Regions from separate parts of the Homo sapiens genome. Here region 2 is linked to region 1. Evidence: fine-mapped expression QTL. Tissue or cell type: testis. Region 1 holds a variant in brackets; the other region holds the start of a gene. All regions are shown on one strand. Distances are from middle to middle.

Evidence for each region. PIP is the estimated chance that this variant, and not a neighbour inherited with it, causes the effect.
Region 2: it holds the start of FLRT3, and the variant in region 1 is fine-mapped to the expression of FLRT3 in testis (GTEx, PIP above 0.99).

The regions. Positions count from the first base shown.
Region 1 is chr20:14,917,223-14,925,490 of GRCh38, forward strand. The region is part of intron 5 of MACROD2 (mono-ADP ribosylhydrolase 2); the gene reads left to right. All of the region lies in intron 1 of MACROD2-AS1 (MACROD2 antisense RNA 1), which reads right to left. Among named protein-coding and RNA genes, the nearest start is that of MACROD2-AS1, 8.2 kb to the right of the region's middle. RefSeq lists an enhancer at 2,219-3,068. The variant A/C (reference allele first, on the strand shown) is at 4,525.
Region 2 is chr20:14,333,482-14,341,481 of GRCh38, forward strand. FLRT3 (fibronectin leucine rich transmembrane protein 3) reads right to left here and starts at 4,131. Exons shown (of 3, transcript NM_198391.3): 1 at 3,923-4,131. All of the region lies in intron 3 of MACROD2 (mono-ADP ribosylhydrolase 2), which reads left to right.

The sequences.
Region 1 (8,268 bases):
CCAGCGGAGGCCTGAGGTTAGCTTTTGTGTGACATCGGGTCTCTATTCTTCCATGTATTTAAGCTCAAAATGTTTCCTTATGGGGAATTTTCTTAAAAGTCTTCAATATTGTTAACTCTTTGAAACCACTGCTGTGTGAAGGCAGCTGATTGTTCCATTGTGGGTCCCATAGGAAGAAGTTCTATGGTTCCTCCTTATTGCCTTCTTGGTGGGCATCCCCTATGAAGCAATGCAGGGAGGACTCCATGATAGTGCAGGCACTTGGCCTTTGATTTCCATCCAGGGAACTCCCTCCACCTGTCTATGAGAGAACTGTGTTGTGGAAGCTCACCGGGAAGCCTATGGAAGACCAACACATAGAATGGGCAGAGGAAGACAAACCTCCAAAACACACCGACTACAACAAATACAGGACAACAAACAGCAATAACATTGAGAATAGGAAGCTCATCATGGAGGAGAACCAGGACAGACATCCACGAAACCCAAAAGAAGAAAAAAATTCAAGAAAGACTGGTCAATTGCATCTAAAGCTACTCAGTGACTAAAAAAGATAAGGGCTGGTTGTTGTCCTTTAGTTGGTGATTTAATGAAGAGCCATTCCAGGGAAGCAGTGGGGGCGAAAGTCAAATTTCACTAGGATGAAGATGACAGACAGGTAAAGGAGGGAAGAGAGTAACTGTGTAGGAATTCAGCAGCAAAAAGGAGAGGTTTGTGGTCACAAGGGTAATGCGGTATACGGAAGGATTTTGTTTTGTTTTTGTTTTTGAGACAGGCTCTCGCTCTGTTGCCCAGGCTGGAGTGCAATGGTGCAATCTTGGCTCACTTTAGCCTCGACCACCCCAGGTTCAGGTGATCCTCCCATCTCAGCCTCACGAGTAGGTGGAACTACAGGCACACACCACCATCCCCAGTTAATTTTTGTATTATTTTTGTAGGGATGGGTTTTTGCTATGTTGCCCAGGCTGGTCTCAAACTCCTGGGTTCAAGCAATCCACCTGCCTCGGCCTCCCAAAGTGCTGGGATTACAGGCATGAGCAACTGGACTAGAAAAGGTTTTTCATGATGAGAAAGACTTGAGTGTGATCAAATGCTGATAAGAAGGGACCAGAGAAGAGGCAGAAGTTAATGATCCAGAAGAGATAGGAAGTAGCTGCTAGAGAGAGGTTGCTTAGAAAGAAGGTAAGGTACCATCCAGGCAACCGGAGGAGGGATTGGCCTTGGCTAGAAGGATTCCTCTCACATTGGATAGGAGAGTAGGCATATGCCATGGTTTGCATGTAGGTCAGCTGGCACAGGGTAGAATTGTTACTGCTTTATTTAGTAAATGTATTCCTCTAAAGTCATCTGCAATCATATCACATTAGCCCTTTTTGTGACACTGTGTTTTTTTTGTTTTTTTTTTTTTTTCTGGAGTTTATTAGCAAATGAGATTTCATTACCAGCTCCTGCTAAACAATGTCTCCTCTATCCCACACTTACGCATTTCTGAAACCAAATTCAAGTCCTAACATTTATTTTCACTGAAGGTCATACTATTAGATTTAGATCATGTTTCCAATTTGTCAAAATCTTTTTATATTTTAATTGAACTCACAACATATCACTGATGTGTTTCAGTCTTGTGTTACCCATACATTAAACAATCAGCTGTATGTATGTCTTCATTTAAAGAACTGTCTTTAGCTCTATTTTACTTTTATTTCATCAACTACTCTCTCCCCCAACCCCCTGAGACTCAAGGGAAGAAGAATTAAACTGAATGCTTTGATGATAACTGATAAAGCCTTTTGTCCTAAGGAGTCCTCCCAAATTGGATTAAGAGGATTCATTTGTGTTTTGCGGTGTTTATATTTGAGGAAGACAAGGATGTGAAAACTCTCACTCTCTCTGTGTTCATTCTCACAAATAGATGGATACCGTCACTTTTCAAGGCTTGTCCATCTGGAATGCATCACAAACACATTGCTGGGAAAGTAAAAGTTCCAGAAAGAGCTTCGTTTTCTCCTGGAACTGTGAAATTGAGTGGCCTAGTTCTCTCCTCCATGTTGTTGTAAATTCACAGGAGTGTAATATAAGCTACATTTTTAACCATTTGGGATAGCTTATGATTGAATAATGCTTCCTGCCAGACATGTTTTCCCTTTATTTATCACTTACTTTTCTCTCTAATTTCAGCAACAGCAATTGCTGATTATGAAAATGACTCTAATTGTTCAACCTTTCATAACCACATTTAACTACCAAAAACAATCTATCTGCTACTTTGAAAAGCAGTTAAACAAGCAAGCAATTTATTCCTGCCTTCTTGCAAGCAACCAGGAACAGGGCCGTGTTCTCTTTGTTCCTTGTACTGCTTTGGAACCATGAGTGCCTCTTTCTAACTTGAATCAAAATCTGCTTGTTCCTAACTGCTGCCTTTGCAATCAGTAATTTGACTCAGTGGGCTTAATTCAAAGCAGGCACTCACATTCTTTAGACTCTTTGTCAGTCTTCCAGGAAATCAAGTTGAACAACAAAAACAAACAAACACCGGCCCTAAATTAAACCAGATAGGGAGGAAGAAACGTCAATGAATGATGAAGCAAAATAACAAGAGTCAGGAGAAATAAATAGAAACCATTTCAAGGCTCCACCTGCCGTGGCCCCATTAGCCCCTCCTTTACCTCCCTTTCCTAGAGGAAATCAAAGCAACTCCTATGAGCAATCATTCTAGTCAGCTTCCAGACTTCCAGAGCCTGCTGAATCTAGCTCCTCCCACCCTGCCCCCAGCAGGTGAGCACACCTGGGATCGCTGCAGGCTGACATTGCATCGTGATTTCTCTGCATCTCAAACAGCCGGCAGCCCTGCAGAAACCTCTTCCCCTTGCTGAGATAAAGTATATGAATTAATTCCCTTTTGAGTTAACCCGCGCCTGGTTCCTCTCAGTAACTACTGGTACTGGGATAGAGAAGGAGTTGGCAGCTCTCTTAGAAAACCAGATAGTTTTCCTTCTTTGTGATGTGCTCAACTTTCTTTTGCCCCAGGCTTGAAAATACATGCCCTGTCTTTAACTTTCCTTGTGTGAATAACCAGGGCTCAACAAGGTAATAGTTGGGTAAAATTGTTACAGAGGCATTCCAAATCTAAAACAGAGATGTTCCCTGGTAAATCTGATCTTATCTAATGTTTCCTAAATGTAAATAGGCCAGAGGGTGTTCCTTTCTGAATACCCTTTAACCAGATACGTTGGAAATCTATTATGTATTGTTTATTTTAATTTCGTTAAAAATGTTCTCAGGTTTGAAGTGTGATTTCTTTGCGCTCTCATTTAATTTTTTCTTCTTTTTAGAATAAATTATTGAAGACAGAACTTTTTCAAGGTATTTATAGATATATCTGAGGTATTCATGATTTATATAAAGTGTACAGGTGAAGAGTTACCTTCTAGTATAGACCTTAAGCATGTTATCATAGCTATGTGCAATAAAGGTGATATTAAGTTTATTTAATATTGCTACCATTTCTTCTAATCCTTGAATTTTCTCTGGAATAAAGCTGCAGTGTAATGAATGAGATTAATAAAAATAGAAGGGTTATGTGTAACTGGAAAGTGGGGAAATCACTTTGTTCATTTATGGTAGAATATTTAATTGAGGTTCCTCCACACATTCACATTAGGAAAGTCACTTGGTCTTTAGGTTTAAAAATAATAATTTAACTTCAAACAATCCTTAACTCTTCAAAATGTTTAAGGAATTAAGGGCAAAAAAACCTAGATATGTTCCACAACTTTGGTGACAATAAACATGAAATATGGAATCCAATTTTTGAAGAATATAGCCAGTCATCCCTTTAAACCACAACCATTTTTACATAATGTATAGAATTAAAAAACACTGGTGAATCAACTCTGTGCTGTGATGTGTATTACCAGTCTATTGGATCTGTGTATTGGGTGTTTGGGGAGCATATCGACATTATGGGCAATGCAGTTATTTCCCATGACATTTTAAAAATCCATTTCTGTATTACATATTCCAATCTAGTGAAAATTACATCTACTCTATTTAGATTTGGCATCCAACACTTGTTGGCCATGGCATGTGATGTAATTTAAACTGCTCATGTACATTTAGGAGGAGATTGATTTATAGCCGTCTTTGCCTGAGACAAGCACAATTTAAACTAATTCTTATTGATCCAGAAAAATTTAAGATTGGTTTTGAAAATTCTCAAGAATAGAGAGTTTTGGATACATTTGAGCCATTTTGCTAAGCATAATTGTCATGTATATAAAAGCATGAAACTGTTAACACTTATCCTTCTTTGCCTTGGCGTCTTTGTTAGTCATTGCATACCTAAAGGCTAATTTCTGCTCCAGATGCTGTGATGTCTGCCCAGCTGGCCCAGCTGTTAGGATATATGCTATTTGCAAATGGCAGCATAAATAGCATATCCAGAATATTTTGCAGGCTGGGGCTTTGCCATTAAAGGCTAAGATATATTTAGTGTCAGGGATAATTGTTTGGTATATTGTAACC[A/C]GAATGGAGCTGACAGAATGCCAATAGGTCTAGCAGAGTGACTCATAAAATAGTCCAATGAAGAAATTATTTACTCAAACATTTCCATATTAGCATGTAATGTGCACTACAAATTGGATTTCCTGTGAATGTACAATCATTGTGTGCAGAGTTTGTAAAGGTGTCTGATATTGCAAATGTATCATTTAAGAAGACCAAATTGCATCAGATTCTCTAACCAAGTCTCTTTTAGCATCTAAAGGAGTAGTTCTTCTAATTATTTTCTGATTGCAGGATAGCCTTGTTGGAAATGCTCAACTTGGAGTTGGGAAGAACTGGGTTCTAAATTCTAGCAATTTCTATGATGACCCGGTGACATTAAACAAATCTCCCATCTTTCCTAATCTTTTCTATTTCTGGTTTCTCAGTTTATAATATTGAAGATACCTGCATTTTAACTGTTTTTGTGTTTTGTCAAAGAAAGGTGCTTTATACATAGTCTAGGTCTATTTGCTTTTCAACTTTTCCCCAAGATCTTCTGTCTTTAGATGTATAGTTTTTTCCTGCTTTTTTTTGTATGTATCTGTTTTTAGCTACCTAGGTATTCATAAGGTGATTAGAATGCAACGGTTACATGGCTTCTTAACCACCCCTAATTTAGACAAGCATTTCTAAGTAGGACTTCTAATATTCAAGGCAAAGAATATTCTAGAACTCAGAAAGTTTGCTTTTATATTCCAAATTATTTTATTGTTACATCTAAAAAACAGTGGTGTCTGCCCTTATCTGATTCTGGATGCTGCTAAAATATACTGCTGGACAGAAATTTGATTCATTAACTTTTTTGGATCTTAACCTTTTAAAGGTGCAGTATGTCCATTGAATCTACAGCTTTACCGAAGCCCTTGACAAGGCACTGGTATCCACAAGGAAAGGCGAATGTTGATATACAGTGACTGGAACTGATTTTTATCAATGTGGATGGTACCAGACTAAGAAAATTATCCATCTGGGCCATGCAATCTGTCTTTCCAGAAAATCACTGAACTACATATCTAATAACACAGTCAGTGAGATAATTTCCTTTTATTGAGTAATTTCCTCATTTGGTAGGGATTTTAAAAGCCTAGGGGCATTTTGAGCATATGGTTCAGGAACATTATTTTAAAATGTGAATTATCAATAGAATTTCAATACAATCAAAGTAAAATAACTTACTTCCTAAGTGTTACAAATATAAGCAGGATATTTCTACAAAGGCTGTTGCTTTTGAGTCAGAGTTAGGAGCTGGAGATTAAAAGCTTTTCTTCAGCATTGTTAGAGCAGGGTGCATCATTCTCAATTGCCAGCGGTCAATTCTCTCCAGACACAGTTGATCGCTCCTCCCACATGAAACAATTTCTTCACTTGAATTCCTCCAACCTCGCTGGCTGTTTCTTCCCAATCTCTTTTGCTGGTTCCCAGTTGTGTCACTCCCCACTCATTACTGAAGAGCCCTAAAGTTCAGTCCTTGAACTCCTTACCTATCAACAATCATCCTTGCTTATCTCAGCTAGATTCCGGGCTTTGTATACTGATCAATTACAAATTTGTATCTCCAGCCCAGACTTGTCTGCTGAATTTCCAACTTGTACATTCTGCTGCCTACTCAGTATCTCCACTTGGATTTCTAGTAAACATCTAAAATGTGTCATCTCCAAAACTGACTTTCTAATTTATCACAACACTTACTTTCAAAAAATACATGCACACCTTCTGTAGTTTCCTGCCTCTTAGGTCACAGCAACTCTATTCTTCCGCAGTTCAAGCCAAAATTTTCGGTGATCTCCTTGACTACCCTGTTTCTCTTACTTTCTCTATAAAGTCTCTTAGAGAAAATCTTGTTAGTGCTACCTTCAAAATATCATGGTGTGAGTTCAAGCAATGTACTTTTTCTTTTCCTTGCATACTTACTCCAGTGGTCTACCTTGTTGAAATATCTAAGATAGGTGACGGCACGGGCCTCCAGGGCCACTCTTAATTATAGGCCTTGTGCCTCAGGGTTTCCTAGGCTGGCGGTGCGTTGGGGGAGGGGGGGGCGGCGGGGCGGGGAGGGGGTGGAGGGTTGGGAAAGAGAAGAACCTCCATAAAGGTAGAAAATGATTCATCTTATATTTCTCTGCAACTTTTTCACCAGTGCTCAGACTGAAAAAAGATGATGACTGGTGGTCATTAAAAAGTTAATTTTCCGTTTACGAGCAAACCTTTTTGGGTCTTTGAGGTCATATATAGACCACGATAAGCAAATTATCTTATAGATTGTATCTATTTTCAGCTGTTATAAAAGTGTTTTAAATTAGACCAAGGCTATTTTTAGTTTTTGGAAAGTTAGCTTATAACAAAAATCTTGCTTTTTCATAAAAAAGTTAAGCATATTAAAAAACAGAAAAATAATACCATATGGAAATAGAGTTGGCTGGGTGTGGTGGCTTGTGCCTGTAATTCCAGCACTTTGGGAGGCTGAGGCGGGTGCATCACTTGAGGCCAAGCCTGGCCAAACATTGTCTCTACTAAAAATACAGAAATTAGCCTGGCGTGGTGGTACACGTCTGTAATCCCAGCTACTGGGAAGGATGAGGCATAAGAATTGCTTGAACCTGGAAGGTGGAGGTTGCTGTGAGCCGAAATCATGCCACTGCACTCTAGCCTGGGTGACAGAGCAATACTCTGCCTCAAAAAATAAAAATAAAAAATAAAAAATAAAAAAAAAGAAAGAAAGTAGAGTTAAATACCACAGATATAGGAAGTCTAGACAATATCAAAGGAATAAGATGATGCGATTTTGAACTAGGAAAGGGTAGATGAGAGCATTTATTTATCTAAGATCTTTTGTATAGATAAGCAGAGTAAACAATCACCCTTATATATGTAGCTCTTTAGTCTGCACCAAGACACTGTCCAAGTGGGAAACAGGGAGACTCAAGCAAATATCCTGTTGGTGTTGTCTCTTTATCCTACTTTAAAAAACACTAGGATCTGGACTGTGAAATCTGAGAGCAGTCTCTGAAGAGACACAGATGAAAGTGAAAATGCTGCTCTATTTTCTATCACCCAATTTCTTGTCACAGTTACTATCATTAAAACATATTAAAAACATGGAAAGGGCTGAAAGGGAAGGTACAAATCTAATAAGATTTGTAATATAAATAACCCTCAGTATGTTTTTATTCCCGATTGCCTTGCCTCCTTAGGTTCTGATATTTAAAGATTGGGTTAAATATCTCCTTTTCTGTGTATAAGGTATTGGCACAATTTTTTTTTTTCTTATTCACTTCTCCTCATCAGGCAGGTGGTTGAAACTACGTAATGCTTGTCTTTTATGGCCATTTTCAGAGAGAATCATTTTCACCAGGGGACGATCTCCTGTGTTTTTTGTTTTGTTTTGTTTTTTTACCCTTTTCTCTCAATCTCATCTCAAAGATAAATGGGAGTTAACAACTCTGGTTAAGATTATGCTCATTTTCAAATGCTTTCTTTATACTTTTTAGCCTTCCATAATATAAATAATATTGTGGTGCTATTGTAATAACAAATCCAGGAAAAAGAAACACCTTACTGTCCCAGACTGATCTTAGTTTCAGAAAACTCTGCCCTCAGATAGTGGTTATACATAATACTTATCCACTGCACCCAATCACCAGGGTGCTATTTTGTAATGAGAAGTCCAGAGAATTTTCTGAAGGCATGACTTAATCATCAAATTACCAGATTTTAAAAGGCTGTTAC
Region 2 (8,000 bases), 580 kb before region 1:
GATATTAATTTAGAGAGTGGTGAAGGTAAGTGGTGCAGAGTTTGGGGTGGGGGCATGCTTTAAATTTGTGCTTTTGAGCAAATGCAATTAAAAGTTTGCCTACTTTTGTTAAACCACGTTTTACCATTGCAGACTTCAAATTCCTTTTTAACAGTGTGGGTACAACTTGGTTGATGTGCTTTAAATTTCTAATATTTAAGTTTCCATACAGTAGTTCAGCAAATACATTTATTTTAGTCTACTGTGTGGCAAGCACTATACTGGTCGGTGAGACCACCTGAAATCATAAAATACATTGTTTTTCATGTCCAAGCAGGGTATTACTTAAACCAGATGAAGAGGAAGAAAATCAACAACACATAAACTGATCAATCCACAGTCCAGTGGCACACTTTAAAAATGGTTTTTAACCAAATGTGGTCTGTGGGTTTTCTCTTCAAAGTTGCCTCGGTAACTTGTGCACATGTAAAGTGAAAGAATAAAGAACAAAAGCTGTCATTGTCTCATCGAGTGAGAGCAATTTCTCCCTCCTTTGATTTAAACAGAATAATACCTGCAGAAAGCTTTTTATACATCCCTGACACTTGATTTTAGGGTAGGAAAGAGATTATGCATATGCAAAACAAATGAAATTTTAGCTTTTGCTTAAATTATATTCTATTGCTTTCTACTTAAAATCTGTTTTCTCTGGGGTTTTCGTAAATAGATAACTCAAAGTTCTTTCTTACACAACATAAACATAGCTTTGAAAACTGTCTTTTAGTGTGATGTTTAACCAAATTGAGTGATGTCGATCTGTATTTTGAAACTGGAAAATACTTTTTGAAATGTGTATACCTATTTTCTTAAGAGGAAGAATGCTGTTTCAGAAGACCAACTCTTTGTTGGAAATTTATTTGTTGACTTTCAGTAAATTTTTGAAATGGTGGAATGTTAGAAGGAGCTGAGAAACATCCCTTTTTATGCTCTGAAGAGAAAATGCAGTTTTGAGGATTAATATTGCTGAGAGATTTTTACTGTAGAGTTTTTGCCCACTGGGGGGTGGTACACTCTACCAGAACACTGCTTTCTGAAGCCGCAAGTCAGATGTTGGCTGCTGCTGGCCAGTTTTTCTCTGGTTTAATTACAACAAAGCCTCCCGTTGAGAAGAACAGTGAAGGCCTCTGGGGCAAAAGGTGGGGGGTGGGAGGGAAGGGGGAAGGAGGAAAGACGGAGGGGAGAAATTATGGCCTTTGAAAAATTACTGAATCTTATTTCCATTGTTGACTTTATTTATGGTAGTCTTCATTTGATTTAAACAGTTATTTCTAATGCTTTTTTTTTTTAAATAAATGGGTTTGAATAAAAGAATATATAAGGGGATCTATTCAGAATTTTTAAGTTAGCTCTGGATTTTGCCATTAATCAATCACATTCTTTGTTATATAGCCCACCCACCTTAAAAAGAGGCATAGAAGTTAAGAAATGACTGAAATGGCAACTATAAACCAATACTTTTTCATTGACCAGATTTAATATTGGTATGAACATTGGCATATCAAAAATGAAAAGCAAGAAAGAAGAAACATTAATATATTATTAAGACAAGGCCAATTCCCTGCACTGATTTTTGTAGGGCTTAAAACTGTTCAAAATAATCCAGAAAAAGGAGGAAGCCTTAGGGTGTGTGGCCAAGAAAAGCACAGAAAAATCTCTCTGCAGTGCACTTGCATGTTTAAAGCTGATTATTGTATTTTTCATCTAGAGAGACTGAGTGTTCATTAGGGTCTTGTGTCCCTAGGCAGGAGATGCTGAGCATAATTGGAGTTTCTATTTGATTGGGCAATATAGTCTAGAGAAGAAACTGGGGTAAAGATAATTAATAGCTTGCTAACAAAGTCTGACAGCCACAAGATTTCAACCAAATTTATTTCACACTGCTTCATTTAGCTCTGAAAAAGTTTTGATAGAATTGTAGGCTCCTTAATTAACACTTGAAAGCAAAAGAAACATACCTTCTATTTTGCTGCCACATTTAGTTATGACAGATTTTCTTACTGTTTTTCTTCTTTTTGTAAAAACTTTATTTGCTATCCAATTATATATCTCACAAACGTTATGTTTGGGAAGTGTTTAATTGTGCATTTTGAACCCAGTCATAATTGATTTTAAAGGGTGGGGTGCAGCGAAATGAAAAACCCAATTAGTAACTGGTAGACAGTTTTACAGAACCGCAATATTAATGAATTCATTATGTTTATTCATTCACTAATATTTTGCTGATCCTTGGACTTGATGTGTTTTGGTTGTGCTCTTCAAAAAATCAAATTTTAGTTTTCTTAGTAAATCTATGCGTTTTTGTAACTCTGTTTTTATTTCAGGGTAATAAATAGATGTGCGTTTGTCTGTGTGTATATATATGTGTCCAAACTAAGGGGCATATCTCTGATTTAATTTTCCCATGGTAAAACCTGGCATATTATCATTAATATTTGTAGTAGTTGGTAATGTTGATATTATTGATTGTGGCACTTTTAAAGGATTAATTTTTCTTTACTCATTTCGGAAGAGATGAATATTAGTCATCTGTCACTTTGGGTCAGGTATAAGTGATTCTCCCTGAATATAAGCAAATTTATTCTTTATGTTTAGGCTGGTCAGGATATTTTTATGCAGTCAGAGATAAATGAAAGGCATTGCTACAGCTGAAGGACTTTTCTAGTGGCTTTATTTATGTTGTTTCTGGATAATAAAATAACATAGATGAGCATTTTAGACAGATTTATTAATAGACAGATTTATTAAGAATGTTTAAAATAGCCTTATTATTAAAACCATTAGAGATTTTGGACTAAAAATTGAAAAAAAAATCAATTTTTTTTCTTTTAAATTCTAAATAAAATAATAAAAACAAACCCCCCAGATGTTGAGAAGACATGGATGGGCCTGTTGCACTCTTTACCTATATGCAACCATTTTGTTTCAGACCTAATTCAGTGAACAAAATTTTTTGAGAAGATACATTTAACTACTTTTTCAAGCTTTGTAGTATAAATGCATTTCTTCCAATATAAGATTTTCCTATTATAAGTTGCAAAGAATGGATCCTCTGCAAAACCCACTTGATAAGGGCTCTACTCATTTATTTTTCTTTCCTGCTACCCCAAACTCACTGCATACATCAGGCATAGCTTCCAGGGTGAGCTTTGTTAGTTTTTCTGAGTAGACTTAGCCATTTACTATGCTAGTCACATACTTCACTTGCCTAAGCAATGGATTTTGGTGTTCTATTGAAGAGGGAATATGGTTTGGAAGAGTGTCTCCCCCTCCTCTGAGTTCAATTTACTAGTTGAGATTTGCAAGCCTGAAATGCTTGAAGCAGCTCAGGCACGATAGCAGTGCAAGCTTTAAAATCTAGGTGTAGCTGTTAATCCTTTACAGAGGCACATAAGTCTCCAGGAGTAGCTCGGCTAGCTGTGAGCAAGATGTATGCTTTTCATGTACTGCGTACTCATGGGCTGAGGGATTATTGATTTTCTTTCACAGTTGTAAAAACAGCAATTGGTGATCATCCCACACGTACAGTACACACCAAGTTGCTTTCCTATCTGTGAAGAATCTCCTTGTATTCTTTAATATTTAACATTGAACTTTCCAACTTGCTGTTTTCCATAAGGCTCTTTTCACATAGCAATTACTCAAGACAGAAAATAGCCACTTACTATCTTTTATAAATGAAAGAAGGTTCTAAGAAACTTCTTACATTCAGCCATGATAGTGAAATTTTTCATTGCTGGCTTGCACGCACATATATTGCTTGTTGTGGTGACAGAGCAAACGTTCCTATTTGGATTTCTCATAGTATCAAGTCGTTTCTTTCTAGAGAGTAAAACCAAGCAAACTTTCTGGGACAATCATAAGAAAAAACATGGAAAACACTTACCAGGAAGACGAGAAAAAGCAATCCTATATACACTGCCGCTATAGCTGTAATTCCATTGACAGTGAATTGGAGTAATAGCCCTCCCCCGTCTCCCAAGCTCTGCGTCCAGTCCACACAAAGCCCACGGCAGCTGCAGGCTGAGCTTGTCCTGCTTCAGATCACTCCTACACTGAGGAGTGAGCGAGGGAGAGCATTCCAGTTTACTGCACACAGCCCACCTCCAAGTCTGAAGTTTAAAGCTTCACCTCGCAGTGGCTGAAGAAGGGGGTGATGTCATAGATGGGCAGGACTTAGCCAAGATCTTGTTCAGTGAGGTAACTGGATAATCAGACAGATGAGCTTTGCAAACGCTAGAGGGGGCGAGAGCAGCCAAAATGAAGCATCAGCCTGCCAAAGCTAGGATGCCATTTGGTTTGTAGGCAGCCCTTTGGAATCTCAACATTTTCTAAAGTTTACTACAAGGCAGTGGTAGCATACTTATGTATTTTTTTTAAAAAGCATGTTAGAAAGATATTTTTAAGATCACAATAGAAAAAGACAGGCTTTGTCTTATTTTTAAACCATCTGTATTGAAAAGAAGTTAACCAAAATCAAATTAGTTTTATTATTCACTAGCTAAAATAATGTTATAATTGTGGAAGATGTATGCCAGTAATCCCAACTGTGAATGTTTATTCAACATATGAATAAACAGCAGATTCAAATATATACATCAGGGCTGGGTGTGGTGGCTCACGCCTCTAATTCCGGCACTTTGGGAGGCCGAGGTGGGAGGATCACCTGAGGTCAGGAGTTCGAGACCAGCCTGACCAACATGTAGAAAAAATTAGCTGGGCGCCCGTAATCCCAGCTGTTTGGGAGGCTGAGGCAGGAGAATCACTTGAACCCGGGAGGCAGAGGTTGCAGTGAGCCAAGATTGCACCATTGCACTCCAGCCTGGGCAACAAGAACGAAACTCCATCTCCAATATATGTATATATATACACGTGTCACTGATTCATTTAGTTATGGGAAGGGCAATAGGAATGCCAAAAGATTTTTTTAAATGGTATTAAATGGTCTGTTCTTTTGGAGGCGAAGAAGTTACTGTTCTCTATGTTTTAGAAAATGAAAGTATGTTTTATGTACTTCTGCTACGTGTTTATATTATTTAAAATGGATTATTTATATTTAACGATCCCCCAATAAAATGTTTTTAAAAAATTTAATAGAATATTTTCCTTTCTAAATGTTTTTGCTGATCTGAGCATGGGTTTAGATATAAACATCTTAAGAAAAAAATCTTTCAGGGTGGTTTGCCTGGATTGAAATTATTTTAGTTTAATTTAGGTACATGAATAAACACTGGACAATTGTAAGACGTGGAGATTATAAATTTCTATGCCTAATTAACAGAATTATACTTGTATTTTTAATTATGATTTTTGTAGACTGGTTTCTGCTATTTGGTCAACAATTGCTTTGTGCCCGTAAGTTTTCCATCAAATAAGTGTATTTCACTTGTTCATGTTGGTGGTAAGAACTTAGCTTTTATATTTACCTGGAGGACCGTTGTCTTAAACTAATATCTTTATTTGCTCTATTCTTAGAGGTGCATGACCTTCTCCTTTGTCCTTTCTCAATTTTTCCCTGCATGTTTATTTCTGAAGAAGGCCAGCTAATAGTCTTTCCCAGGACTATTTGATTGTGGTCTCTTCATTAGCTTCATTTAGTTTATCTATTTATATATTTGTTTGATAACAGTTTGACCTGAGTTCCCTTCCAAGAATGGGTGATATCAAAGTAGGTGAACCCTTGATAAGAAATGTATTGACCCTATTGTTCTATGATTGCACTTTTGTGGGCCTCAGAGGACAGACCCATTAAATCTAGGAGTTTTAGATTCTAATGTCCATTGAAAAGCCAATTTCTTTGAACTGCTAGGTAGTACAATTAAACTGATATGCAGCAGCTGAATTTTGGGAGGAAAGGGAGGTGGATATTTTTCTGTTACTATGAAACAAAGACATGGATTAAATTATTTTATTAAATAATTATTTCTAGAAGCCATTTTCAGATAGGAGTTGGTTCTGTTTAAAAAAGAAAATTTTTGCCTGGTCAAATTCCTGTGGGTTTATAGCCATATTTAATCAGTTTCGTCTTCATTCAGGCAGGCCTTAAACAGAAAAGAAAAATCAATTGGTGAATTGGGTTATAGGTATCAAAAATAAATTGTACTGGCCTGGGAGTTAGCAGTTTGGAGGTTTCCCTTCTCTGGGCTGCCATTGTTATATGACTTCATATTTGTTGCCCTAGGCTTTGGTTTCATCACTTGACAAATAAAGGCAGCAAGGATTTATTAAATGCCAATTATTTTTTGTTGCTTTTTTTCCCCTTTTAAGCTATGGATTAAAATATGGGAAAAGAAAAGAAATTGTGAAAATATATTCTATACTGGGGTACTGACTTTGGGGGCAAACTCTTAGTAGAATCTGTGGCCTCCTATTCTGTCCAAAAATATATACTCTTTTGCTGCATACATAGTTTTTCACTTCCCGCTCTTATCAGCTACCTGAAATGCTACTAGTTGAAGGTGAATTTATAATAATGTGTGCCCCCTTTGAAATAGTATGTACAATCTCTGGAAACATGAGGTTATCATGAGTTACTTCAGATTGCCCTCCTCTTTTGTTTTCTAAGGCACTTTGGCTACAATAAGGGGATGACTGTTTTGATTGAAGGGGATGGAATGCTGGCAATCTTTAGCATGAAACCCTTTTGGCTGTAATAGGAAGGGAGGAGGTGGATTCTCATATCAGGAAGGACTTGGCTCAGGGTAGAGGACAACCAGTGTAGTAGACCTGGGTAGTTTAAGAACATGGGCTTCAGAGATTAGCACAGCTGGGCTCCATGTTGGCTTTGCCACATGACTGTAGACAAATTACTTAATCTCTTTGAGTTTGTTAGCTCAGTGCCTGACTCATAGTAAGTGCTCAATAAGACGATAGCTGTCATTATTTAAGATGGGGGACATCCAAGCACCTGGAACAAAAAGGACACTAAGAATGGGAGAAGAATACACAAAGGGAGGTAGTACAGGGCCAATAACAGATTTTTGGAATTTTTCAAATTTCTCTTTGAAGTAATTTTACAGTCAGTAAATGGAAGTGGAAAAGAGGAATAGAAGAGCATTTCATTGATTTTTTTTTTCTCTTGTACTTACACATCTCATGACCTCATGTTCCCAGAACTTAACACTTAGTTGGGTTCTAGTAGATATTTTGGGTTGAAAAGATGTTTGCTGTTTTGCATTTTGTTCTGTTTTGTTGGCTAGCCTGTGAATCTAGCATTGTACGTGAGAAAGTGCATTTCAGATTGAAAGCAACTGGTTTGGAAATGAACTTCAATAACATATCCCAGTTTTAAAACTCTAGGACTATCTAAACTTGTCATCTCAAAGGACTTTGTGGTGTTCTTTGTTTGTTTTTATGAGAAAATGTGAGATGTTCACTAGTGGACATGAAAGTAGATTGGATTTGGAATTGGGTTTCCCAGGTTCTGCCATTTACTTGTATATCCAGACAAAAAAATGAAAAACAACATACACACAGAAGCCTCAAATCTGTCTTTTAGTTACCAACTACCAGCTGAAACTGACTAAAACACACAGTCATTTCATGGAACAATACAATTCAGGTCTGTCTAGAGTTAAGCTACCTCATTCACACATTCATTCATTCAGTCTTCACATTCATTTATTCATTCATCATATACATATTTATTGACTCCCTGTGTAAAAGAAACTAGTAGGACTAGATGATCCCCAAACTATCTCCAACTATGAAGTTCTGAGATTTAATCTTAGAAGACATTAAGGTTCTTTTAAGCCTAAGAAACATTCTTCATGATTTTCCTTTCCCTCAGCATTCTTCATGAGAATAAAATCTTCAAAATTGTGTAAAGAAAACAGTTTGGATGGGCGCAGTGGCTCATGCCTGTAATCCCAGCACTTTGGGAGGCCGAGGCGGGAGGATCACCTGAAGTCAGGAGTTTGAGACCAGCCTGGTTAACGTGGTGAAACCCCGTTTCTAGTAAAAAT